7 linked regions of the Homo sapiens genome follow. The protein of the gene in region 7 interacts with the protein of the main gene of each other region in a biochemical or structural test. Each region holds a gene or a part of one and is shown on either strand. Other genes may lie near its edges. The genes, in order: SNTG2, GIPC2, SIPA1L2, HTRA3, FRMPD3, ARHGEF11 and SCN4A.

Region 1 (3,500 bases), on a different chromosome or scaffold from region 7:
TTTTTTCTCTTTCATTAGAATGCTGCCTTTCTGTAGTAATATTGAGAAACATTTTACTTTGTCCATATCTTCTTTCCATTTAACAATATTACCAAAAACAAGCAAACAAAGAAACTAAAGCTCAATTTATTCAACCAAAAATGGTTATTTATCTTCATTTCTTTACATTTAAGGGCACTGAACAAATTCTATCCCATTTTTCCCATAGGAAAAAAAAAAGTACATTAAATGATTGAAAGAAGTTATCTGTATTCATTTTCTATCGATGCTTAACAAATTAACACAAATATAGTAGATTAGAGACACACATTTATCCTCTTACAGTTCTCTAAGAACTTGTCTCTTAGGGCTAAAATCAAGGTGTTGGCTGCTTTCTCCTGCAGCCTCTGGGGGACAGTCTGTTTTCTTGGCTTTCCCAGCATCTGGAGGCTTTGCCCTTGTGCTCTGAGCTCACCTGTGCCAGAAAGCTCCAGCCACCGCAGCTTTGGAAGCATGCCTCCCTCTCTGCCCTCAGAGTGGAGGATCTTGTATGAAGCCTGGATCACCAGCCCAGCCTGTTCAGGAGAGCTCTCTCTGGGGTGTGTTCCTTCCAGCAGCACAGCTTAGAAGGAAGGTATAGGGTGGAAGTTCAAAAGGATCAAGATATTTTTATTTCCAGAAGGTTATTGGACTCTTTGTGCACTGGCACCTGCCACAACAAGTGAGGGGAAGCTCCTTGCCTTTTCTATTTCCCTTATATTTGTGTGACTAAAAGAGGCTACTCTAGTGTTTTTAATTTCCTTTTCTTAAAAACACAAACAAACAAAAAAAAAGTCTGTCCCTAGGGGATTTTCTTTCCTTCTCACTCAGACAGAAGCAGCAAACATACGGTGTCTGATTTCACCCCCCTACATCCAGCATCATACACAGATGAGCAAACCCTTCACTCAGGAAGGGGATGAGTGATTTTTCTTTCAATATTTGTAGAGATGGAGTCTCTAAATAAGAGAGCAGTGTCTGCTTGGCCTACCATTGGAGCCTGATTCTGCATAACGATTCCAGTCACCTGCGTGTCCCAGTGGTTTTTTGTCTTACTTAAGAGAGTTCTTTTGGAGATCCCACCCACAGGCTCTGACCTTATGGAATATTCAAAGCTGATGCAGTCCCCAGCGCTGTCTCTTCCATTCCACTAGCATCCATCAACTCAGTCAGCTCAGACACAGCCCTGAGCAGTAAACTGCGTCCTTGGGGCCTTTGGTCCAAGCCTCAGTGCTTTTTCTAGCTTTGCCTTCTGTGCTTCAGCCACTGGATTCAGATTCCATTGTCCCATCTGTGGGGGCCAACGTGAAGCTTTAAATAAACATGTAAACATCTTTTATTTGTTACAGCCTGTGACATTATGATTACATCATTCTCCACCAACAATAAGAAAATTTACATTACAATGATTTGTCCCATTGAGTGTGTAGCACGAAATTCTCATGGAATTTAATAAATGGTCATCAAGTTGACCCATTTAAAAAAAAAAACTCACAGAATTTTGAAAACCACAGCATGGCAAATCATTATTGGAGACAGACAGTGCAATTAACACAGTGAGGTGGCTGAGAAGTTCCACAATAGCAAAAGTATCCCGCCTTCTTCAATCTACTTTTCTCCAAATCTATGCAAACAAAGAGTGTTTAAAAAATATAACTTTTTAATATCAAACACATTTTGGGAAATGCTGCTGTGTTGATACCATCACATTTCAGTAAAACTTCCATGAAAGTCACCGACGCTGAGCATTTCAGTAGAACTTCCACGAAGGTCACCGATGCTGAGCATTTCAGTAGAACTTCCATGAAAGTCACCGACGCTGAGCATTTCAGTAGAACTTCTGTGAAGGTCACCGATGCTGAGCATTTCAGTAGAACTTCCATGAAGGTCACCGATGCTGAGCATTTCAGTAGAACTTCCATGAAGGTCACCGATGCTGAGCATTTCAGTAGAACTTCCATGAAAGTCACGGATGCTGAGCATTTCAGTAGAACTTCCATGAAAGTCACCAACGCTGAGCATTTCAGTAGAACTTCCATGAAGGTCACCAACGCTGAGCATTTCAGTAGAACTTCCATGAAGGTCACCAACGCTGAGCATTTCAGTAGAACTTCCATGAAAGTCACTGATGCTGAGCATTTCAGTAGAACTTCCATGAAAGTCATTGATGCTGAGCATTTCAGTAGAACTTCCATGAGAGTCACTGAGGCTGAGCATTTCAGTAGAACTTCCATGAAAGTCACTGATGCTGAGCATTTCAGTAGAACTTCCACGAAGGTCACCGACCCTGAGCATTTCAGTAGAACTTCCATGAGATACACCGATGCTGAGCATTTCAGTAGAACTTCCACGAAGGTCACCAACACTGAGTGTTTCAGTAGAACTTCCGTGAAAGTCACCGACGCTAAGCATTTCAATAGAACTTCCATGAAGGTCACCGACACTGAGCATTTCAGTAGAACTTCCGTGAAAGTCACCGACGCTGAGCATTTCAATAGAACTTCTGTGAAGGTCACCAACGCTGAGCATTTCAGTAGAACTTCCACAAAGGTCACTAACGCTGAGCATTTCAGTAGAACTTCCATGAAGGTCACCGATGCTGAGCATTTCAGTAGAACTTCCACGAAGGTCACCGACGCTGAGCATTTCAGTAGAACTTCCGTGAAAGTCACCAATGCTGAGCATTTCAATAGAACTTCCATGAAGGTCACCGACACTGAGCATTTCAGTAGAGCTTCCATGAAGGTCACCGACACTGAGCATTTCAGTAGAACTTCCATGAAAGTCACCAACGCTGAGCATTTCAGTAGAACTTCCGTGAAGGTCACCGACGCTGAGCATTTCAGTAGAACTTCCGTGAAAGTCACCGACGCTGAGCATTTCAATAGAACTTCCACGAAGGTCACCGACGCTGAGCATTTCAATAGAACTTCCGTGAAAGTCACCGATGCTGAGCATTTCAGTAGAACTTCCATGGAAGTTACCAATGCTGAGCATTTCAGTAGAACTTCCATGAAAGTCACCAACGCTGAGCATTTCAGTAGAACTTCCACGAAGGTCACCGATGCTGAGCATTTCAGTAGAACTTCCACGAAAATGACTGACACTGAGCATTTCAGTAGAATTTCCATGGAAGTCACCAACGCTGAGCATTTCAGTAGAACTTCCATGAAAGTCACCGATGCTGAGCATTTCCATAGAACTTCCATGAAAGTGACCGGCGCTGAGATGGAATGACTCCTGTGAAACCCTCACAAAATGGACCCCCCCCATGAAAGAGGAACCATGAATATTTACCTGATAACAAGAAGTACCACAAAAGACCCTGGCAACACCACAAGCTGCACAAAGACCACTGCAACCTTGTGCAAAGACAAGTCTTCTATGAGGACACAAGCTCCCCTTGCTATTGATCCTTGTAGCCAAGGATAACGGTTTCAAAACAACTTCTGTAACCTCCTCACTTTGCCTTTAAGCTTTCC
Region 2 (3,959 bases), on a different chromosome or scaffold from region 7:
GAAAACTTGGGTAACAATATAGCTTCATGGGAGGAAAAAAAAAAGATGGGCACAATGGCTCCGTGTCTGTGTTATTCAAGAGACTGAGGTAGGAGGATCACTTGAGAGTAGGAGTTTCAAACCACACTGAGCAACACAGAAAAACCACATCTCTAAAAAAAAGTTTTTTTAATTAGCCAGATGTGGTGGCACATGCCTGTAGTCCCAGCTACTTGGGAGGGTGAAGCAGGAGGATTGCTTGAGCCTAGGAGTTTGAAGCTATAGTGAGCTATAATCGCACCACTGCAGTCCAGCCTGGGCAACAGAGTGAGACCCCATCTCATTAAAAAAAAAAGAAAAGAAAAACAGAAAACAAAAAAAAAGAATACACTGAATTCAAATCCAGGCTCTGCCACTTGCTATGTGTAATTCTGGAAAAATTCTGAACCTCAAAGTCTGTTTCCTCTCTGTGAAGTGGGGATATTAATAATAATACTTACTTCTTAGGGATTAAGTAGATTGAATAAAATCATGTACCTTGAGCTCAGAATAATGTCATATATAATGATGAGAAGTGTTAATGCAAAATACACATGCTCCTCTACTTACCAAGGTGTTATGTCCCAATAAATCCATTGTGAGTCAAAAATATCATAAGTCAAAAATGCATTTAATACCCCAATAAACCCATAAAGTGGAAAAATCTTAAGTCCAGGAAGTTACATCCTAATAAATCCATGGCGAAGTCAAAAATCTTAAGTCTAACTATCATAAACCCAGGACCATCTGTAACTAAAACTGAAGTCCCTGGTTACAGCAAAGACATTTAAAGTTGTCAGTTAAGTATGCTAACAAGCTCACTAGCTTAGGAATCAGAAGATCCAAGTTTAAATTACAGTCAAGTTTTTTTTTGCTAGGTATGTGACCTTGGCTAAGGGCCAATCACTTTGTACTTCAGTCCTTCATTTAACTGTTAGGTATTAATCATATTAGTTACCATGTATTAAGCCCTAACCATAAACTATGCAATCTGATACGTTTACATACGGACTCCACTCTTCACAATACTCTTCAAGACAAATATTCTAATCTCTATTTTACAGATGGCGAAAACTGAGAGAAGTTAAACTCATTCAAGTCCACACAGCTAGTAAAGGGTAGAACCTGGCTCCATGTCCAAGTTATCGTATTTAACCTGCCACCTGCCTCCCCTAGAGATCAAAGGAAAGTGTCCTGTGAAAGTGTTTTTTGAAAAAAAAAAAATCCTATATAAATGTGAAGTATTATTAGTATCCTATATCAATACAAATAATTCACAGATGGGTTTGCGATTTGCCCCTTAGTGCCTGGGAACTTCGAAAGAACAAAGGGTTACACTTTAAGCTCTCTTTCGTCTCCTCTTGGAATTTTGCCTTGACCTCAATTTCCCTTGAACAGACCTGATAAACAACTAATTAAAGAACTCCAGGTGCCGCTGTAGGCCTCAAAGACAGCTCTCTGCACTCCTCTGAGTCCAGGGCAACAAAATTATATGCTTTTCCTAGAAATGTGGACAAAATATTTTGTTGAGCTAACTTTTCACACCTACCTTTGCAGTTCACTTGGGTTAGCACAAATAAAGTGGTCACATAAACGTTCACATAAACTAGTGCTTTAGGTCATGCCTGTGTCAAACTTAGTTCCAGGCCCCCATGAAATCTAATTAAAGCAAATTTCAGTCCCTTTTTAAGGATACGATGTAAAAGAGCTGATCTTCCTCATGAAAATTTTGTTAACTAGTCCCACGTGATTAAGTATGAATCTCTAGGTTATCCACTCTTGGAATAACAGCCCAGCTTTTTAAACTTCTTGGAAATACCACCAAAGGGTTTCTGGTGCTGATGTTAGAAATGACAGATTGGGGGAAAGTGGGCCTCCGTTTGGTATTACCTGGAAGGCTCTTCAATGTTTTCCCCCCCACTTAATCTGGGTATCACCTGCAAGGCACTTCTATTTTTTTTTTCCCCCGTTAATCTAGGGAGATGACCTGCGTGACTCTCACGCCTGCGGAGGAAACAGGAGAGTAAAGTCCAGATGAAGTGGAGGGTATTAATCTGCCCCGCCAGATCTCGAGTCTGGGAAGGTGCTCACGCCTTGAACGGCCGGCGGAATCCGGGACATCTGGAGCAAACACATTTGCAAGCGGAAGAAAGGTTGCCTCCCTCAACCCGCTTCCCAAAGGCCAGATCTCGGAGCAAGGGGGACTGTGACTTTCTGCGGTCCTGCCAAGTTAAATTTTCCCTTCCAGGGAAGGCACACTCACTTTCCCCCGGGACGCCCCCGGCGGACTCAACACGGCATCGGATTTCGCGCTCCGGGAAACGCCGCTCAACCCTCCTGGGCCCACAGAAATACGCGCGGCGCGGCGCGGCGCGGCGGAGAGGCGGGAGAGCCTGAGCACCTGGCGCCTTACCTCCGACGGCGAGATTTCAAACGCGCCCGCGATCTGGGCGTAGAGCTCCTGGATGCTGGAGAAGCCCTCCACTCGGCCCGTGGCACTACCGTGCGCCAGCTGCGCGTGGAAGACCAGCCTGCGTGCGGGAGCCCGGGACGCTGAGAGGCTCCCGCCGCCCGCGCCCGTCGGCTCGCCCTCCACCAGCCCGGCGGTCTCCTTGGACTTGGCCTTCTTCTTCCCCCGCAGCTTCAGGGGCATCTTGCAGGGCCGAGAGCGCGGGCCCACCTGCGCTGCCGTCCGCCGCCTCCTCCCCCCGGCGCCTCGGACTTTGCGCCCCGGGCCCCGCGCAGGTAAAAGCAGCCTCCAATGGCAGCCGCGCTTCCGCCTGGCTGCGTCGGGTCAGGGCCCCGACCTCCACCCCTGGACCGGAGCAGCCGCCCGCCCGCCCAGCCTCCCCCGGGATGGATCTGGAGAGAAAGAAAGTTACGTAGTCCCTCATCCTATCACCAGGTTTATCCCTACTCCTTGTAAAAAATGGCTCTATTTACGTGAACGCCTGAGGATGCCGACGCTACAGAACAATACGCCTTAGAAGGCAAACACGCTGGCCCTTCTCTGCTTTTCATAAATCTGTAGTAGGCACCCACGCATGATTTGGCCACAGGCCTTCGGGTCCGTACGTCTGGACTTTCGGGGATAGGGATTTAAGTAGAAGTCAACCTTCGTCTGCATTTTCTGCGTCTTACGCTCTGCAGGGCAGAATTGGAAGAGAAAGTCACATAACCTTGAGCTTGGTGCTACGTTGTATTCATAAACCCCCTCAGCCGGGTCCTTGGCACCTCTGAGTTTCCCTTTTGCCTATTTCCTGGGCTGCTTCCTCTCCCAACATTCAGCACGCCTCCAAAGCCATTTGCCCCAGCTCTGCCCTTCTTAGTCTCTACAGAGGACCTTGCCTCATATAGTACAAAGAAAATTGAGGCCATTCGGTGTGAAGTGTGAGTTCCCTCAATTCCCTACCTCGCGTTTATTGCATTGTTTTCAAGTCCAGTCCCCTCCAACTACGCTTTTTACAACAAAGCAAAACAGTCTTGAATTATTAGCTACGAAATTTCCTCACTTCTCTGCTCTTAGAAGCACTGTGATCAGACTTTGCCCCCACACTACTGAAATTTCACTTACTATGCAATTTCAGTGGAGTGAAATCACTATCATATCTTAATTACCAAATACAAGTAATTCTTTTAGGTTTTTATCTTACTTGGTCTGCGTTGCCCATTTCATTCTTCTTAAATTTTGTCCTCTTTTGGCTTCCTTACCTCTCCTCTCCCCGTCCCCACCCTGCTCCTTGCTAACTGCTAGTCTCCAGGAGTTGCATTCACCGACAGTTTTTCCTCGACAAACTTCCCTTCTTACTTAGCTTTGCATGTTCTTCCTGTATGGTCACATCAACATTCTCGGTTTCACAGACGTTGTTGTCTACCAAATGTCTCCAACTCCAGCTTATTCTACCAGAAAGGGAATGTACTGTAGGAAACCCAAATTGAGA
Region 3 (3,500 bases), on a different chromosome or scaffold from region 7:
ACAGAGTGACCTCCTAAGGTCTGTGTTACCCACCCTCCCCAACCCACTCCAATAAAACAAACTACAGTCAAAAATTACACAAATATTCTCAAGACAGAAACCAATACTGATGAAATTAAAATCTAAAACCATAAAAACCCTAGAAGAAAACCTGGGCAATACCATTCAGGACATAGGCATGGGCAAAGACTTCATGACTAAAACAGCAAAAGCAATGACAACAGAAGCCAAAAATGACAAATGGGATCTAATTAAACTAAAGAGCTTCTACACAGCAAAAGAAACTATCATCAGAGGCAACAGGCAACCTACAGAATGGGAGAAAATTTTTGCAATCTGTCCATCTGACAAAGGGCTAATATCCAGAATCTACAAGGAACTGAAACAAATTTACAAGAACAAAACAACCCCATCAAAAAGTGGGCAAAGGATATGAACAGACACTTCTCAAAAGAAGACATTTATGCGGCCAACAAACATATGAAAAAAGCTCATCATCACTGGTCATTAAAGAAATGCAAATCAAAACCTCAATGAGATACCATCTCACGCCAATTAGAATGGCGATCATTAAAGTCAGGAAACAACAGATGCTGGAGAGGATGTGGACAAATAGGAACATTTTTACACTGTTGGTGGGAGTGTAAATTAGTTCAGCTATTGTGGAAGACAGTGTGGCGATTCCTCAAGGATCTAGAACCAGAAATACCATTTGACCCAGCAATGTCATTACTGGGTATATACCCAAAGGATTATAAATCATTCTACTATAAAGGCACATGCACACATATGTTTATTGCAGCACTATTTACAATACCAAAGACTTGGAACCAACCCCAATGCCCATCAATGATAGACTAGATAAAGAAACTACCATACATATACACCATGGATACTATGTAGCCATAAAAAAGAATGAGCTCATGTCCTTTGCAGGGACATGGATGAAGCTGGAAACCATCATTCTCAGCAAACTAACACAGGAACAGAAAACCAAACGCTGCATGTTCTCACTCATAAGCAGGAGGGAGAGCTTTAGGACAAACACCTAATGCATTCAGGGCTTAAAACCCAGATGATGGGTTGACAGGTGCAGCAAACCACCATAGCACAAGTATAACTATGTAAAAAACCTGCATGTTCAGAACATGTATCCCAGAACTTAAAGTAAAAAAAAAAATAAATAAATAAAAGTACAGTGAGCTCCCAGCTATCTGTGCTAGAAGCAGAATAGTTTATGCACTGAGAAAAAGGAGGAGGAGAGTAGCGGGGCCCACCCTCTGCCTCCTCAGGCACTCTGTGAGGTTATCCCTGGATCCCTGGGAGCAGGAAGAGGGCTGACGGGTGAAACTGAAGACAGAAAAATATAGCTCTGAAAAGTAAGCTGCACTATAATGAAGGCGTGAAGGACACCAGCTGCACCCAATAAGAAGGTGGTGAGAGGTGCCGGAGTGTTTTCCTCGGCATGTGTTACTGACACATGTGGAACCTGTTTCTCTGTAGGTCTTTAAATCAGAGAAGATTCTCCTAGCCCTGGGATAATTAGGGACACTTATTTAAAGGTTGAGGATTCAACTACATGACCTCTGAAGAATGCATCCTTCAAGCCTGAAGATATACGTAAAGCAAAAACCATTTATTTGACATAGAATTAAATAATTTATCACTTGTGTCTTAACATTTAAGCCCATCTATAGAACTACATGAAAACAAAATTTGTCTGTTGTGGTAATTCAGGCATTCTTTCAACAAAGATTTAACATGTCCAACACATACAGCAATGCTGGAGAAGCAAAGTACAGAAAGATTAGAGAGGTGAGGGAAACACAGAATTTTCCACTGTAAGCAGCATAAGAGATTATTCAGAGGAATAGGAGGAGGACAGAATTAATCAGGGAAGACTTCTTACAAGGGATGAAATCTAAATCAAGTCTGAATTTGTGATGATCACAAATTGGCAGACAAAGAATGACAGAAAGAGAAACCAAAAGGGCATTTACACATTAAGGACTACCCATAAACAAAGGCATGGAATTGCAGTTTTCTAAAGAAAAAATTAGCCTGGAAGCTATGGAGGGACCATGATGGAGAACAAGGTCAGGCCCAGTGGACTATGGCCTTGGACACTCTGAGGAAGGTGCTCCAACACAAAGCAAAACATTGTGACTGGTTCTTAAAAAACTACTCCCGAGACACATGCAAACGCCCATGGCTCTTCCTTACCTTTCCCATAGAAGAATTTGCGGTAATAATAGGCCCCAAGGTCAATGTGTTCTATGATGTAGCGCTTCACTTTCTCCCTGTGAATAGGCTGGTTTTCTCTGGGCACTTCCAAGACGGAGACACCTGCATTTGTGCAGTGAGAGCTGAGTGACGATTCGAAAGAGCAGCTTTCCCCAGAACTGAAAGAGGATGAGTTGGCTCGAGAGAGCGCAATCCGCCTGTCGCCTTCCCCTCCAGTCTCATTTCTAAAGTAAGGACAACTAAGGACGAGGTCGTTACTTTTCCCATCACCCTCATCGGCATCCAGGTTCTCTTTGGAGTTGAGGTCCTCCTTGCTCCCTAAAGGGGACTCACAGTTGCCTGTCTGGCCCGTAGGCATCTGAGTCTGGGATGCTGCAGATGCCCCAGTGGTTATGTTTTTCCTTTTCCCCACATTAGCCCTCGTAGCCATGGCTTCGTTGATATTAAACAAAATGCTCTGGACATCATAATGTGCAAAACATCGCTGACAATTCCAAGGGCGAATGCCCCTCTCCAGTCGGCTCTCCTCCAGCTCAGACGTGAACTTGAAAGTTTCGTGCTCACTTTTAACAGTTCGAAGCTTTCGGAAGAGAGATGTTTCCACCGACTCTGATTTCAACCTCCGTTTGAAAGGCTTGTCCCTGTCTCTCCCCATCAGGAGGGCACTGTCCACATAATCTAATCCTGAGATGCGGACAAATTCTCCCCTAGAAATCTGTGCTGCTGCATGAAGGCTCGGAGAGATTGCAGGGTCACAGCGGAAAAATTCAGGGAACCCAAAAGGGACCATTGCTTTGTGGTCATAATTTTCTACTCGGTACCCTCTGAGCATAGCAAAAAAGTTTTCACCAGATAAGCCTTGCCTGTCGATGGATGAAGTACTTCCATACTCCCTGTGCAGGGCAGCCCCGGTGTTGGGGTTGACTGCATTTTGGTCTAAGACATCTTCGGCATCAATGTCACTGATAGTGACATCACTATTGCTCCTCTGTCTTATGGGGTGAAGTCCTCTTTGGGGGGAATGGACAAAGATGTCTCCGATTGTGTACTTGGCCTCCACGAAGTCCAGATCGAGCTGTTCATCTTGCTGACCTTCACTCTGGTCACTCTGCCCATTCTGCAGGACAGAAGTGATGCTTTCATAACTGGTCTGAGACCGGCTTTCCCACAGTGCCTTGCATGTTAGCTCCTTGGAACAGTCCTTTTTAGGAGGCCATTCAGACACCCTTGCTCTCACACCCATCTTGGGCACAGCT
Region 4 (3,423 bases), on a different chromosome or scaffold from region 7:
CTTTCCAGCCTGGTGGATGAGCTGAAGGCCAGCAACCCGGACTTCCCAGAGGTCAGCAGTGGAATTTATGTGCAAGAGGTTGCGCCGAATTCACCTTCTCAGAGGTAGGCTCTGCCAGAGGAGATCGCTCGAGGCATGGGGCAGGCGTGAGGTCTGGGCTGGGGCTGCCCCACTGACCTCATGTGACCTTGAGCTTCCCAGCAAAGTGACCGGGAAGGGGCAGGTGGATTCTAGCGTGTCTGCTAAGCCAGAGGAGGCTGGAGAGCTGAATGGTCCCTAGAGCCCTGACTGTGTACGTCCTAAGTCCCACAATGTCATTTCCTTCGAGAAGCAGAGGCTGAAGAGTCCCTGTTGGGCTAAGAACCCACTCCAAGCCAGACTCTTTCACTAGCTGGGGACCAGCCTGGGTCCTGGGTCTTTCTGGGACTCAGCTTCCTCATTGTAAAGTGGAGATAATTCAGCCTATTGTTTTTTTTTTTTTTTTTTTTTTTTTTTTTTTGAGACAGTCTCCCTCTTGTTGCCCAGCCTGGAGTGCAGTGTCGCGATCTCAGCTCACTGCAACCTCTGCCTCCTGGGCTCAAGCGACTCTCCTGCCTCAGCCTTCTGAGTAGCTCAGATTACAAGTGCCCACCACCATGCCCTGCTAATTGTTTTTGTATTTTTAGTAGAGAAGGGGTTTCACCACGTTGGCCAGGCTAGTCTTGAACTGCTGACCTCAGGCGATCCACCTGCCTTGGCCTCCCAAAGTGCTGGGATTTCTACCCCCAGGAGACTTTGTAGATGAAATGGATAAAGGATTGCTTTCTTTGAAGTCTTCCAGTACTAGAGAAATGTTAAGCATTGCAACACCATAGGCTGAGGCAGGCGTGCAGCGACACTACCACATGCTGGCATGGCTGACCCACTCCCAAGAAGGGCTCTGAACCAGTTGCCTCCCCTCCTTAGCCTCGGTCTTCATCTGCAGTGGGAAAAATCCACATATAAGTGGACCCACACAGTTCAGACCCATGTTGTTCAAGGGCCGACTGTACTGTGCATCCTCAGAGGCTGGGCTTGAAGGTGGGAGGCCCCGCGTGAACTTCTGTGATGAGCACAGATGGCACACTTGTCCTGCCCGCAGCAGGCCTGCAGTAAAAATTGTTGAAATTGGGTGAAATTTTCCACACACATCTCAGTTAATCCTCACTGCAGCCAGGGAGGTGCAGGCTCCTGCCCTCACCCATTTTACAGGTGGAGGGACTGAGGTTTAGAGAAGTTACTCTTCCAGGTCACACAGCTGGCATGTGAGGGTCCTGATGCTGGTGCCCACGCAGCTGAGCACAGTACCATCACCTTCCTTCCCAGCAGTGGGGAGGTCTCAGTGAGCCTCATGCAGAGAGAAGGCTGGCCCCGTGAGCTCTGCCTCCCACATAGACGTCTTCGTAACTGCAGTAACAGCAGAACCTACTCCTGGGCCTTTATAATTTGCAAAGTGCGTTTCCACATAGGATGGTAGACATGAAAACTGAGGCACAAGGGGACAGAGTGCCTGGCCCAGCTAGGAGGGCTGCAGCGGGAGCTTGAACCCACCCTTCTGACGCATGGGAGAAGCAGTTTGAAAGGTTGTTTCCCTGTCGTGTGACATTGGTTTTCTTCTGGTGTGAGAGCTTTGGGGCTGGGGCACTGTTCTTTCCCATCGAGATGACTTTTGTTGAAATGTTGTCATTGACCCTGACTGTGCCTCGCTCTGGGCCGGGCCTGGGAAGGCTGTGCCTGGGGAGGCGGTGGGTGGTGACCCCGTCTCTCCTGTTGGCAGAGGCGGCATCCAAGATGGTGACATCATCGTCAAGGTCAACGGGCGTCCTCTAGTGGACTCGAGTGAGCTGCAGGAGGCCGTGCTGACCGAGTCTCCTCTCCTACTGGAGGTGCGGCGGGGGAACGACGACCTCCTCTTCAGCATCGCACCTGAGGTGGTCATGTGAGGGGCGCATTCCTCCAGCGCCAAGCGTCAGAGCCTGCAGACAACGGAGGGCAGCGCCCCCCCGAGATCAGGACGAAGGACCACCGTCGGTCCTCAGCAGGGCGGCAGCCTCCTCCTGGCTGTCCGGGGCAGAGCGGAGGCTGGGCTTGGCCAGGGGCCCGAATTTCCGCCTGGGGAGTGTTGGATCCACATCCCGGTGCCGGGGAGGGAAGCCCAACATCCCCTTGTACAGATGATCCTGAAAGTCACTTCCAAGTTCTCCGGATATTCACAAAACTGCCTTCCATGGAGGTCCCCTCCTCTCCTAGCTTCCCGCCTCTGCCCCTGTGAACACCCATCTGCAGTATCCCCTGCTCCTGCCCCTCCTACTGCAGGTCTGGGCTGCCAAGCTTCTTCCCCCCTGACAAACGCCCACCTGACCTGAGGCCCCAGCTTCCCTCTGCCCTAGGACTTACCAAGCTGTAGGGCCAGGGCTGCTGCCTGCCAGCCTGGGGTCCCTGGAGGACAGGTCACATCTGATCCCTTTGGGGTGCGGGGGTGGGGTCCAGCCCAGAGCAGGCACTGAGTGAATGCCCCCTGGCTGCGGAGCTGAGCCCCGCCCTGCCATGAGGTTTTCCTCCCCAGGCAGGCAGGAGGCCGCGGGGAGCACGTGGAAAGTTGGCTGCTGCCTGGGGAAGCTTCTCCTCCCCAAGGCGGCCATGGGGCAGCCTGCAGAGGACAGTGGACGTGGAGCTGCGGGGTGTGAGGACTGAGCCGGCTTCCCCTTCCCACGCAGCTCTGGGATGCAGCAGCCGCTCGCATGGAAGTGCCGCCCAGAGGCATGCAGGCTGCTGGGCACCACCCCCTCATCCAGGGAACGAGTGTGTCTCAAGGGGCATTTGTGAGCTTTGCTGTAAATGGATTCCCAGTGTTGCTTGTACTGTATGTTTCTCTACTGTATGGAAAATAAAGTTTACAAGCACACGGTTCTCAGCCAGCAGGGCACTGGGGCAGCCTACCCACCACTGGCCAGGGTTCTTCCTGGGGACCCATCTAACACATGACTGGGCATACCTGCAAAGACACGGGCCTTTAAAGGGTTTCTATGACAGCTGAGCACTGGGGCACACCAGGTCTCGGGGTCATGTGGCGCTGTGGAGGGCCAGCTCCGAGTCAGGCAGCCCGGCTCAAGTCCTGGCTCCTCCGCTTACTTCCGGCTTCGTGGTCTTGGGCAAGAGATGTTCCCCTCCCTACCTTGGCCTCTGCCTCTGTCCAGCAGGAAGGCTGGCTCTGCTGTGCTGACCTCCTGGATGCCCTGGGATGCAAGGTGACAGATGCAGCACTTGGGAAGCCACCCGGCTTACGGGGAGCTCCCACTAAGCCCCACTGTGCACGTCTGGTCACATGAAGAACCCTTTCTCACATCTATTTCACCCTCCCTGCCACCCATCCAGCGATGGGGAAACTGAGGCAGAGAGCAATTT
Region 5 (3,500 bases), on a different chromosome or scaffold from region 7:
TAGATTCAACAGCTAGGAAATTTTTGTTAATTGTCCTAAAGAGGGGCTGGCAAAGAGAGGTCTCTCTCTATCCCTCCTCATCTGGCCAGGCCCGCCTACAGTCATTGCAGCTGAGGCCATTTAGCTGAGCTTGTCCTCTCTCCAGCAGCCACGTGGGACTCAAGCCTGGGAGCAACTAGCACTCTCTCCAGACTCTAAGCAAAGAGAAATGCCAGCCCTGGGGGCCAAATACATGGGGGTTGTCCAATGTCAAGGGTGTCCTCACACATGGAAAAGGCAGGCTCTCTCTGACCCCAATCCCTCGTGGTCCCTATTCCTCCCTATTCCTTTTCTGTTGCTGTGTCATTTACCTCTTCTCTTTCTTTTTTCTTCTTTTTTTTTTTTAGAGTCTCACTCTGTCACCCAGGCTGGAGTGCAGTGGTGCAGTATCGGCTCACTGCGACCTCTGCCTCTCAGGTTCAAGCGATTCTCCTGCCTCAGCCTCCTGAGTAGCTGAGACTACAGGTGTGCACCAGCCCACCCAGTTAATTTTTGTATTTTTAGTAGAGACAGGTTTTCACCATGTTGGCCAGGCTGATCTCGAACTCCTGACCTCAAGTAATCTGCCCACCTCGGCCTCCAAAAGTGCTGGGATTACAGGTGTGAGCCACCACGCCCAGCTCTCTTCTCTTTTTTTAAGGTGTATGTATATGGAGGGACATATGTGTGACTATGGGTATGTGTCTGACATGTGTTTGTCTACAAGATGGACATACATGTGTTTATAACAGGGAACAGCATGCATGTTGTACGGTTTTCCTGTGAACTAATACTTAGTTACAATAGCTACCACTTACTGAGGCCTTACTGTGTGCTAGGCAGTGCTTACATGCTTTGCATGAATGATCTCATTCAATCCTTGTGACAACCCCATGTGATAGAACTACTTTTATAAAACCCATTTAAGATGATGGAATGAGGTTCAGAGAGAGTAAGTGCCTTGCCAAAGGTTACACTGACAATGATTGAAGAAACCAGGACTTCGGTGCATCTGATTCAGAGCCCATGTTCTTAGGCAGGATAAAGACCTCAGCCATGAGCAGTGATGGCCCTTGGCTCCCCTGGTCCCAGGTCACTAGGTAGTGAGTTGGTCGTTTTCCTTTTCTTTCAATCATGTGCATGCTGGATGTTCTGTTCTTCACCTGTCTTCTACATCTCTCACAGTTTTTCTCTGATCCTCTATCCTGGCCTGCATCCATAGCTGTCATGACCCCAATCCCTGGGATCTATCTGTAAGGCATTTCCAAAGAGATGCAATGACGAGAGCCAGAACTCTAGCTAGAGCTGAGCAGCTGCTCCCTGCTGTAACATCATTGCTCCTCTGACCCTATCTAAAGAACCTTTGGTACATCCACTGCCCTGACATACCTCAGTGACTCTGACACCTATTTGGGAAGACACAATGTTACCTACTGGCCCTTGTTGGACAAGAGAAGGGGGTGGAAAGAGGGAGAAGGAATCGGTCATTACCTGCAGTCTGTGGGGGTGGTGGGTGTGGTCCATCCTCGGATGCAGCCAGGGCTTCTAGAGCCTGCAGAGTGGACACCAGGGCATCATCTAGCTCCTGGGCATGATCTCGAACTGTCCGGGTCTGCACACTGTCAATCAATGTCACTGGAATCTCATCGTACAGAAGCCCACGCAGGTGGCGTCCTTGTTCCTGGCTCTGGACAGCCCGGCGCTTGGGGTCATCCTCATCAGAGCTGTTGTCTCGGAAACCAGGGGGTGGGGCAGCAATGGCTGGCAACAGAGAAGTTGTCTCATCTTCCTCCTCCTCCTCCTCCTCACTCCCAGGTGGTGGGAGGGACATCAAATCTACTATATTGTCACGAGAGGAGCCAGGCTTCCCACCTTTGCGAGGGCCCAGCTGCTCCTGAAGTTTGGCTTTGCAAGAGTCACAGTAGAAATTCAGGGCTTCAGCCCCAAGGGAATTGTCCAAGGTGTAGGACCGGGCCCTGCTGGCACAAGGCTCGTGGTCTAGGCTAGCTGCATCAAAGTCATCAGGGACTACCTCATAACCTTGGCCAGAGCTTTTGGATGTGGGGTCAGACTTGGTTCGGGGCCTGGTCTCCTCAAAGAAGATTAGGTTCTCGTTGACATCTGTCCGGCTTTCCTGCTCCTTCCTTTGTTCCCGCATATGGAGGTAGCAGAAGCTGACAAGCTCAGAGTCGGCAGGTGGGGGCGTGCAGCGGCTCGATTTCCTGGGGCTGGTGCCCACGCTGCCCACATAACTACTCTCCTTTTTCCCCAGGTGGCCCCCAGTGACAGGGCGGTGGGCGCTGTGCATGTAATCTAAACCCAGAAAGAGAATCAACAGATGAGCCCTGGTGCCAAGGATTGTGAATGAGCTCCCTTGTTGTCTCTGGCCCATGTCTCTGTAGCACAATCAAGTGGCAGGTCCCAAGACAAAGCATTACCTGGCTGCCAAAGATTAGAGGTAGGGAAGTTGATGAGCTATGTTACTGCTGACCCTGAAAGTAGAGTGAATAGAGTCTAATAACCTGAGCTGCTAATAGCCCCATCACCTCTGAAATGGGAAAAGGCATGGGGTATGGTAGGGGTCGGGGTGAACACCCTGGTTTAGGGCCTGGTATCTGGGCACAGCTGGACTCTTACATGGATACCCTCTATCTGAAAGTCAGCTGTAAACGTATGTCCCACTTGGAACTGTTCCTACCCCTGTCCCCACCCCTTTTCAGAGCTTTTCCACCAGTGCTCTGTTGTTCTTGTTATCTTGAATCTCTTCTAGCAGAAGGAAATAAATCTGACAAGTTACTAATGCTTTAGTCAGAACCTGTTAAACAGGCTACATATAATGCCGAAGAGTTTGCATTTCAAAGAGGCCTGTTGATGGAGGGATCCTAAAAGAATAAGGCTCTATATTAGAATTCCGGGGTCTGAATGTGTAAAGTATATGGGAGATATGCTGGGATGTGCATATGTGGGAGGAGGGCAGGGGAAGCATTCTTATAATTCTTCAAATTTTATTCTTTTCTGCATTCATGCAGGGCCAGCCCTACCTGCTACACATACATATGGCAAATGCTCTCGTCAACCGCTCTTAATGATGGTAGGTGTGTGCATCTGAGAATTATCTATAGCAAATGCTTTATCTGTGAATACCTTCTCTCACTGTTTTTGGAGCTCTTCCCCATTTTATCTGTGAGAATATACTCGGACAGCAGACAGACAGATAACAAACAAGCACTAACTTAGGCTAAGGTCCTAATATACATGATCCTACTTATTCTTCATAACAACCCAATGAGGTAGTTATTATCATTATTCACATTTTAAGGATAAAGAAACTGACTCACCTAAGGTTACATAGACCAAGTGGTAGACTGGATTTCCGCCTAGGTCTGAAAGACTTCAAAACCCATGTTTTTAGCCATTACCCTTATAACTCATCATGGTGGTCAAGATGCTGGAAAACAAGCCTTCAAAATGCCACTCAAACT
Region 6 (3,500 bases), on a different chromosome or scaffold from region 7:
TCCCAGAAGATCTCCACCTTACCTCCAGTTCTACCCCATCCCCTGCTCTCTCAGGCTGAGTTCCAACATCTAGTCTTTCTTAGGTGGGGCGGCCTGCCTTGTCCATCTAGGGACAGGGTGACAATAGCAGGGTGTGTGTCTTCTGGGGCTCCATTGTGCCACCCTATCTGGTCTCTGTCTCCTACCTCTAAGACTCTCCAAGCCCTGACCAGTGTTCTGCTCCTAAGGGTACCCACAAAGTGTGAGGGGTTGACTGCTGCAGCCTCTGCCTCCTACCTTGAACTCTGCTGCCAGGGGGTTGCTGGCCCTCTCCAGGGCGGTGGCATCCAGGCGTTTCTGGTAGCCCTCTAAACGGTGGCGGTTCTCTGTTTGTTTTACCGCTTCATTCACATACTTGAGAATCTCCCGGCACTGGTCCCGGGCCCGGCACAGCTTCTCATGCTCAGAGGTGCCACCTACCAAAATGGACAGAAGAGATGGTTGGGGCTCCTGCCTGAGAAGTCCAACATGGCGCCAGCTGTTATCTGCCTATTCATCCATGGCAGCTGGCTTGCTTCAAACCAGCAGGCGTGGGTGGAGGGGAGCCACCCTTGCCTCACATGAGGACCCCAAGTGGTAAGGGTAACTTTTACTGAGCATCTTCAGGTCTCAGACAGATCACTGCTTTGAAGACGCTGATAGCTCCTGGGAATCCCTGCCTCTACTACAACCAGCTCTACAGATGCAAGGGACAGAGACTGTGGTAAATGGCCACAATTATGCCTCTAGAAAGCCTGTTCAAATCAGATTGGGGTTCCTAACACCTCTCTGTCCTGACTCCAATGTCTGAAATTTGGGGGTAGTGAAAGATGCCCAGGATCCCAGGGAGAGTGATAACCTGAGGCTAGACCCTCTTGTTCAGTCTGGTCCCCTGCCCCTCTAGTGTAACCACATAGGCTGTGTCTTTTGTGCACTGCAGGGGGCATGAATGGGGATAAAATCCAGCCCCATGCAACCAGAGGGACCCAGGTGCCCTTGAGTGCCAGCCTGTGTTGGGCACCGGATGCTTTCCTTGGATTTGCACAAAGGCCCACACAGGTGGCCTTCGATGGTGGCCCCTACTCCTCCCACTATTAAACACCTTATATTTTCCAAAGGACATTTACAATCATTTTCTTCTCTGAAACACCCCACAACAGAAAAAGGACGAAGACACCAAAGACCACAAGGCACAGTGACTTGCTAAGGTCACAAAGCAGTGTCAGAATGAGGGTCTGGCACGAGGCCCACTGCCTGTGATGCCAGCCCCTCCCCAGGTGCTACCCTCTGTGTGCTTGATGATGCTCTCCAGCAGCAGCGGGTACTTGGTGAGCCGCTGCATCTCAGAGATGATGAGGTCTCTCAGCTGCAGCCGCCGACACTGAGGGTGGCTCTCAGCCTCCTAGACAGCAGGAGACACAGAAGGGAGGAGATGTCAGCGTGGCTGGGAGCTGGCTTATGGGCTCAGGGCCAAGATGGGTGTGAACATGACAAACAGGTCCTAACGCCAGATGGATCACTCAGAAATGGCAGTGGAAGCTTCTTCCTTAAAGATGTAGAGAAGGGTGTGTGGTGGCAGGGAGACACCAATCCAAAGGGATATGGTCAAAACAGAAGGGCAGGCATATTGCTGCCATTCTATAGACAAGGAAACTGAGATCCATCTCAGGACACACAGGTGCTGGTGGGTGAGCCAGGCCTCTGACTGCTAATCCAGGATTCTTTCCAACAAACAGAAGTCTCTTTGTCTAGAGTGAGTCAGTGCTTTTGAGGAGCGTGTGTCGAAGGGTAGAGGGAGTTGCTGTAGACAGGGATGATGTGGCCAGAAGGAGAGAAGTTCAGGAGATCCTTGGTGACCTTGATGGAGATGAAGGAAGGCCAAGGCATGGCCAAGGACGCACCTGCATGAAGAGCTGGAATCGACTCTCCTTGCGTTGCTTGGTCTTGATTAGCTCTAGGGCTATTGACTGATAGGAACAGAACTGTGCAGCCACTTGCTGGAGTTCCTCTCGGGCAGGGCCATCAAACTGAAGAGGCAGAATGGACACGGGGCCAGGCATCAAACCCCTGCCTGGGACCAGACCCCTGCCTTTGCCAAATTCTCTGGCCTTGGGTAATGAGACCCTGCCTCCCCCAATCTCCTCCTTGCCAAGAGGGAGAAGTTTGGAGCCATACCCGGGCCAGCATGAGGTCACTGATCTCTTTGATGATGGGGCCTTCCTCCCGGAGCTTCTTCATGGCTTCACACCAGGAATCTGGGGCAGGAAGAGAACAAATAGAAATGCCTGGGGTTGAGCTCAACTGCCAGAACCTTTCTGACAGAGAGAAGTGAATCTCTGACAGCAGTGCCATGGGAAGGGTCTGGAAACCATTGTACTTTCGGGGTGAACTCCAGTGCTGGTTTCAGGCTGTCCACAGATCTTTTTCTCACCAGGGATTGGTGGGAGGTTACCTACTCAGGGAGGTCCTGGCAGTGGGGCCAAAGTGGAACAGGAAGCTGAAGGGCAGCAGAAGAGGAGTCTGGAGGGGCACAGGCTCCTTACTGTGAATCTCTATGAGTTCAGGCAGGTTCGGGAAGAGCCGGGCCAGCTCCTCCCGGGGCATCAGGTTCTCCTTCTTCATTCGCTGGTAGAAGATCAGGTCCAGGACCCGGAGTGTGCGCAGGTGGGAAGCTTCAGTCACAAACAGCTCTGAGCGGTGGTTGTGACAAGGAGGGTAGAAAGCCAGGGAGAAAACGGATCAGCAAGTATCTAGAGTCCCTGACCTGGTTCCCACACCACTCTATTTTTGGGGGAACTGAAGTGCCAGTTTCAGATCATACAGCAACTTTTCTCTTACTCCAAGGGCCAGAACTGAGGGGAACCTTATAGCAACAGGCAATGTGGACCTGCTCCAGCACACAGGGGCCCCCCACCCTATTTACCTCTTTCCCACCCTTGTGTCTTAGGCATTCTGGACCTATTCCCACACGTGTGAGCGGAGCTGGGGGCAGTGGAGCACGTTCTCACCATTGATGACCTCTTGCCGGTCAATCTCCCGCTGGGTTAGCCCAGCCACCACATCCTTGCCCACTGTATGCTGCCAATTTTGGGCATCTGGCTCTGGCTCCAGGTCAGACAGCTGGCCCAGATCATCCTCTAGGAGGTGGGGAAGGAGGGTATCTGTGCAGAACCCCAAACTGGGGGACTCAATGCTCCTGGGGGAAAACAGGCAGCTCAGCTTCATTTAGGAGGAAGAACTCACACAGAGGGTTTGGCCCTCCCTCTCCTGCCCGACCTGCTTGCCCCATGCACATGGGAAACCAGTGGGCCCAGAAGAGGAGACAGCCACCCAACCAGCCCCTTGCAGGTGAGAGGAGCAGCTGGGTGTGGATGGGACACAGAGACACCAAACAGAGGCACCACCGTGCCCATCACTTACCTGCGGCCCATTTTGGGAGTGAATGGAGGGGTTGGGTTCTCAAGAGACCTGTGGAGGGAATG
Region 7 (3,865 bases):
TTGGGCGTGTCCTGCGGCTGATCCGCGGGGCCAAGGGCATCCGGACGCTGCTGTTCGCCCTCATGATGTCGCTGCCTGCCCTCTTCAACATCGGCCTCCTCCTCTTCCTGGTCATGTTCATCTACTCCATCTTCGGCATGTCCAACTTTGCCTACGTCAAGAAGGAGTCGGGCATCGATGATATGTTCAACTTCGAGACCTTCGGCAACAGCATCATCTGCCTGTTCGAGATCACCACGTCGGCCGGCTGGGACGGGCTCCTCAACCCCATCCTCAACAGCGGGCCCCCAGACTGTGACCCCAACCTGGAGAACCCGGGCACCAGTGTCAAGGGTGACTGCGGCAACCCCTCCATCGGCATCTGCTTCTTCTGCAGCTATATCATCATCTCCTTCCTCATCGTGGTCAACATGTACATCGCCATCATCCTGGAGAACTTCAATGTGGCCACAGAGGAGAGCAGCGAGCCCCTTGGTGAAGATGACTTTGAGATGTTCTACGAGACATGGGAGAAGTTCGACCCCGACGCCACCCAGTTCATCGCCTACAGCCGCCTCTCAGACTTCGTGGACACCCTGCAGGAACCGCTGAGGATTGCCAAGCCCAACAAGATCAAGCTCATCACACTGGACTTGCCCATGGTGCCAGGGGACAAGATCCACTGCCTGGACATCCTCTTTGCCCTGACCAAAGAGGTCCTGGGTGACTCTGGGGAAATGGACGCCCTCAAGCAGACCATGGAGGAGAAGTTCATGGCAGCCAACCCCTCCAAGGTGTCCTACGAGCCCATCACCACCACCCTCAAGAGGAAGCACGAGGAGGTGTGCGCCATCAAGATCCAGAGGGCCTACCGCCGGCACCTGCTACAGCGCTCCATGAAGCAGGCATCCTACATGTACCGCCACAGCCACGACGGCAGCGGGGATGACGCCCCTGAGAAGGAGGGGCTGCTTGCCAACACCATGAGCAAGATGTATGGCCACGAGAATGGGAACAGCAGCTCGCCAAGCCCGGAGGAGAAGGGCGAGGCAGGGGACGCCGGACCCACTATGGGGCTGATGCCCATCAGCCCCTCAGACACTGCCTGGCCTCCCGCCCCTCCCCCAGGGCAGACTGTGCGCCCAGGTGTCAAGGAGTCTCTTGTCTAGCAGGCAGCATCGGGGTGGCCCACTGAGTCTCGGCATAGTCCCCAGAGCTCCCCCGTGGTGCCTGCACACAGAGTGAGGGAGGAGGGCTTTGAATCTGGGACTGTGCCTGGCTCCCTGATGGGGGACAGGATTTGGCCACACTGGGGCTGACACCCAGGCCCGAGCGCCTGCGTTCCCAGACCATGGGAAATGGGAATTGCGCTCAGGGGCTCCATGCTGGGTCTGAGGCCCCTGCCTCCAAGATTTAACCTGCAAGTTGCTCTGACCTCCTCTGGGCCCTGTCGCCCCTCCTTTTGGCCTGGGGGAGGTCAGAACATTCGAATCTCTGCCCCTCACTTGAGGAGGAGCTGGCCTGCGGTGGAGGGATCAGTTGCCCCCCATCACCAGAGTCTTAAGGGTCACTGGCCTCTCCCCAGGAAGTGGCTCAGACCCCTCAGCCCCAGCCCAGACAAAGATGTCTTAACCTCAGGGAGTGCAGACACCTAACCCCAGGGCACTGCCAGCCCACCCCCTTTGACTCTGGGGTGCAGCTTCACCCACCAGGCCAGCTCAGGAATTCCCTGGAAAAGGGAAATGTGACTGGTTCAGAAATAGCTCCTCAAAGCCTCAAAACCTGATTGGCCACTGGATCCTGCTGCTTTGGGCTGGGATGGTGACTCCTGAAACCTCTTCCTAGGCCACGTCCAGGTCCGTAGCTCCCCTGGCTGGCTCCTAGGGGAAGAGCAGAAGGAAGGATGCCACTTGGGAATGAATTGTCCTTTTCTAGGAAGCACGGGGGAGTGAGACAGGCTGGGTCCTGCCAGCTGGATCGCTGCACATGGCCTGAGCATCCAGACCTGAGCGGGAGTCAGGGACCTGCTGCTCAGTAAGAAGATTCTCGCCCCTTCCCTCTCTCCCTGCCTCACTCCTCCGTGAGCACCACCAGGGCTCCAGGAGCCTCATCCAGCCTCAGAGATCTCCCTTCTCATCTCCCCACGCCCGTCTCTTTCTCACCTTTCCCACCTCTCTCCCCAAAGTGATCCTAAGAATGTACAGTTGAGCTCAGGTTAGATATTTCGACCCTGGGGCGTGCAGCAGGGAAGGCCCAACTGGTTCAGGCTCAACCTTCCAACTTCCTGTGGCCTGAAGAAGCACTTCTGCTGCATCGCTGTTCTGGGCATGGCAGGGCCAGGCCTCTGCTGGCTCAGGAGGAGGGGTGAGAGACCTGCTCAGGCGTCGCTGGATTTATTCACTTGTGTGTGTACCTGTGGCTGTGTGTCTGCTTGTATGCTTTTATAGGCCTGTGTGTATAGCTGTGTGTGTGTTCAAGTGCGTGACTGTATGTGTGTGTGTGAACCACTGTGTACTGGAGCCTGCATTATGCACGTGTCTGGGTATCTTTGTATATATGTGTATATATGTGTGCCCTGGACTGTTTCAAGGTCCATGGAGTACGGCTGGTGTGTCATACTGTGCAGGCCTGTCCCTGGGAGTGTTCCCGTGCCTGGGAGAGTGGACCTGTGCTGTGAGTGTGTGGATGCGTGTGAACGCATGTGGTAAGGTGTGTACTCAGGGCATTCTGTTGGCCTAAGTGCCTCTTCTTTTTCTTCTTGTTTCTCATGAAAAGTTTGATTAAAATTCAGGAAGCAGCAAAACCTTCAAAACAAGACATGTATGTGTGCTTGAGTGTGTGAACACGTGTGTGTGTGTGCACATCTACATGCCATGCCTATGGGCCAGAGTTGTCTTTATTGTCCACCATGCTCTCTCACCTGCTCCCAGTCCTGCCTGAACAGCCCTCTCTCTCACTCCCCTCTCCTCCCCTTCCTGTTTCTCGTTGTCACACCCATGGCCTCAGCCCTGCTCCCTGCCTCCTGCCTATGTCTCCTCTATGGAAGGAGGCCTCCACTCCTTCCATCTCTTCCTTCAGAAGTTTCGTCTAATGGGGGCAGTCTCCCCTTCCTGGCACATTGCCCCTCTGCCTTGCCCTCCTGGGCCCTGGGCTGGCACAGCCCCTGGAGCCTCAGAAATCTGTTTGATTGGATATTCTCCTCGGACTGTGTGCAGGTTGCAGAGGAAGAGTAGATGAGCCGGGTCCGGCCTCTCCCTGCCTGTGGCCCCTCCCCTGCAGACGGATGCCCATTCCTGCCTGGTCCAGTGGGGAACAGGTCCCACGCCAGGCCAGCAGGCGGGCTCCTTTGTACAGTTCTTACAATAAACCCTCCTTGGTGCCTCTGGTATGTGGCTTCTCCCTTCTGCATGTCAGCATGTGGATGCGGATGGGGGCTGAGGGCAGTGAGAAGCAGAAAGGGTCGGTGGGGATTGGAGCCAAACGTGGAAGACACGGGAGCCTCTCAGGGGGCCAGGCAGGATAAGGAGGCCCCAGCTCCCCGCTCTGGCCCAGTCCAGCTCTCTCCAGCCTCCTTACAAAAGCCCCTTAGCTGGAATCCAAGAGACCAGATAGGATCAGGGGTCAAGACCTGGCTCCCACAACAGGCAGCACCACACTCCCTCTCTTCCAGGTGATCCCTGTTGGGACTCTGTGTCCCCAGCTCCTCCTCCCCAGAGGCCCCTTCACTTCTCTGCCCATCTCAGAGGCCTCAAGGTGCCTGTGGGGTACACAGCACAGCCTCTCCCTCTCCTCAGAGGCGCTGACCCCAGGACTGACTTCTGACCCCAGATAGCCCAGGGTCACGTGGACCCGTGACTAAGAATATTCTTATGCGGCAAGTTTAGCC

Evidence for each region.
Region 1: the proteins of SCN4A (region 7) and SNTG2 interact in a test that uses a peptide from one of them, tested with the Homo sapiens proteins (one large-scale study listed by IntAct).
Region 2: the proteins of SCN4A (region 7) and GIPC2 interact in a test that uses a peptide from one of them, tested with the Homo sapiens proteins (one large-scale study listed by IntAct).
Region 3: the proteins of SCN4A (region 7) and SIPA1L2 interact in a test that uses a peptide from one of them, tested with the Homo sapiens proteins (one large-scale study listed by IntAct).
Region 4: the proteins of SCN4A (region 7) and HTRA3 interact in a test that uses a peptide from one of them, tested with the Homo sapiens proteins (one large-scale study listed by IntAct).
Region 5: the proteins of SCN4A (region 7) and FRMPD3 interact in a test that uses a peptide from one of them, tested with the Homo sapiens proteins (one large-scale study listed by IntAct).
Region 6: the proteins of SCN4A (region 7) and ARHGEF11 interact in a test that uses a peptide from one of them, tested with the Homo sapiens proteins (one large-scale study listed by IntAct).

The regions. Positions count from the first base shown.
Region 1 is NC_000002.12:1,359,849-1,363,348, forward strand, and holds part of SNTG2 (gamma-2-syntrophin), read left to right. Parts: intron 1-3,500. UniProt on the Homo sapiens protein: Adapter protein that binds to and probably organizes the subcellular localization of a variety of proteins. May link various receptors to the actin cytoskeleton and the dystrophin glycoprotein complex.
Region 2 is NC_000001.11:78,044,807-78,048,765, reverse strand, and holds the start of GIPC2 (PDZ domain-containing protein GIPC2), read right to left. Parts: upstream 2,801-3,959; 5' UTR 2,672-2,800; coding exon 2,432-2,671; coding exon of another isoform or gene 2,282-2,431; intron 1-2,281.
Region 3 is NC_000001.11:232,511,634-232,515,133, forward strand, and holds part of SIPA1L2 (signal-induced proliferation-associated 1-like protein 2), read right to left. Parts: coding exon 2,224-3,500; intron 1-2,223.
Region 4 is NC_000004.12:8,304,176-8,307,598, forward strand, and holds the end of HTRA3 (serine protease HTRA3 isoform 1 precursor), read left to right. Parts: intron 1-8; coding exon 9-104; intron 105-1,795; coding exon 1,796-1,961; 3' UTR 1,962-2,923; downstream 2,924-3,423. UniProt on the Homo sapiens protein: Serine protease that cleaves beta-casein/CSN2 as well as several extracellular matrix (ECM) proteoglycans such as decorin/DCN, biglycan/BGN and fibronectin/FN1.
Region 5 is NC_000023.11:107,596,152-107,599,651, reverse strand, and holds part of FRMPD3 (FERM and PDZ domain-containing protein 3), read right to left. Parts: intron 2,332-3,500; coding exon 1,510-2,331; intron 1-1,509.
Region 6 is NC_000001.11:156,944,743-156,948,242, forward strand, and holds part of ARHGEF11 (rho guanine nucleotide exchange factor 11), read right to left. Parts: intron 3,487-3,500; coding exon 3,439-3,486; intron 3,215-3,438; coding exon 3,027-3,214; intron 2,709-3,026; coding exon 2,562-2,708; intron 2,274-2,561; coding exon 2,194-2,273; intron 2,046-2,193; coding exon 1,920-2,045; intron 1,421-1,919; coding exon 1,303-1,420; intron 456-1,302; coding exon 277-455; intron 1-276. UniProt on the Homo sapiens protein: May play a role in the regulation of RhoA GTPase by guanine nucleotide-binding alpha-12 (GNA12) and alpha-13 (GNA13). Acts as guanine nucleotide exchange factor (GEF) for RhoA GTPase and may act as GTPase-activating protein (GAP) for GNA12 and GNA13.
Region 7 is NC_000017.11:63,938,054-63,941,918, reverse strand, and holds the end of SCN4A (sodium channel protein type 4 subunit alpha), read left to right. Parts: coding exon 1-1,148; 3' UTR 1,149-3,365; downstream 3,366-3,865. UniProt on the Homo sapiens protein: Pore-forming subunit of Nav1.4, a voltage-gated sodium (Nav) channel that directly mediates the depolarizing phase of action potentials in excitable membranes.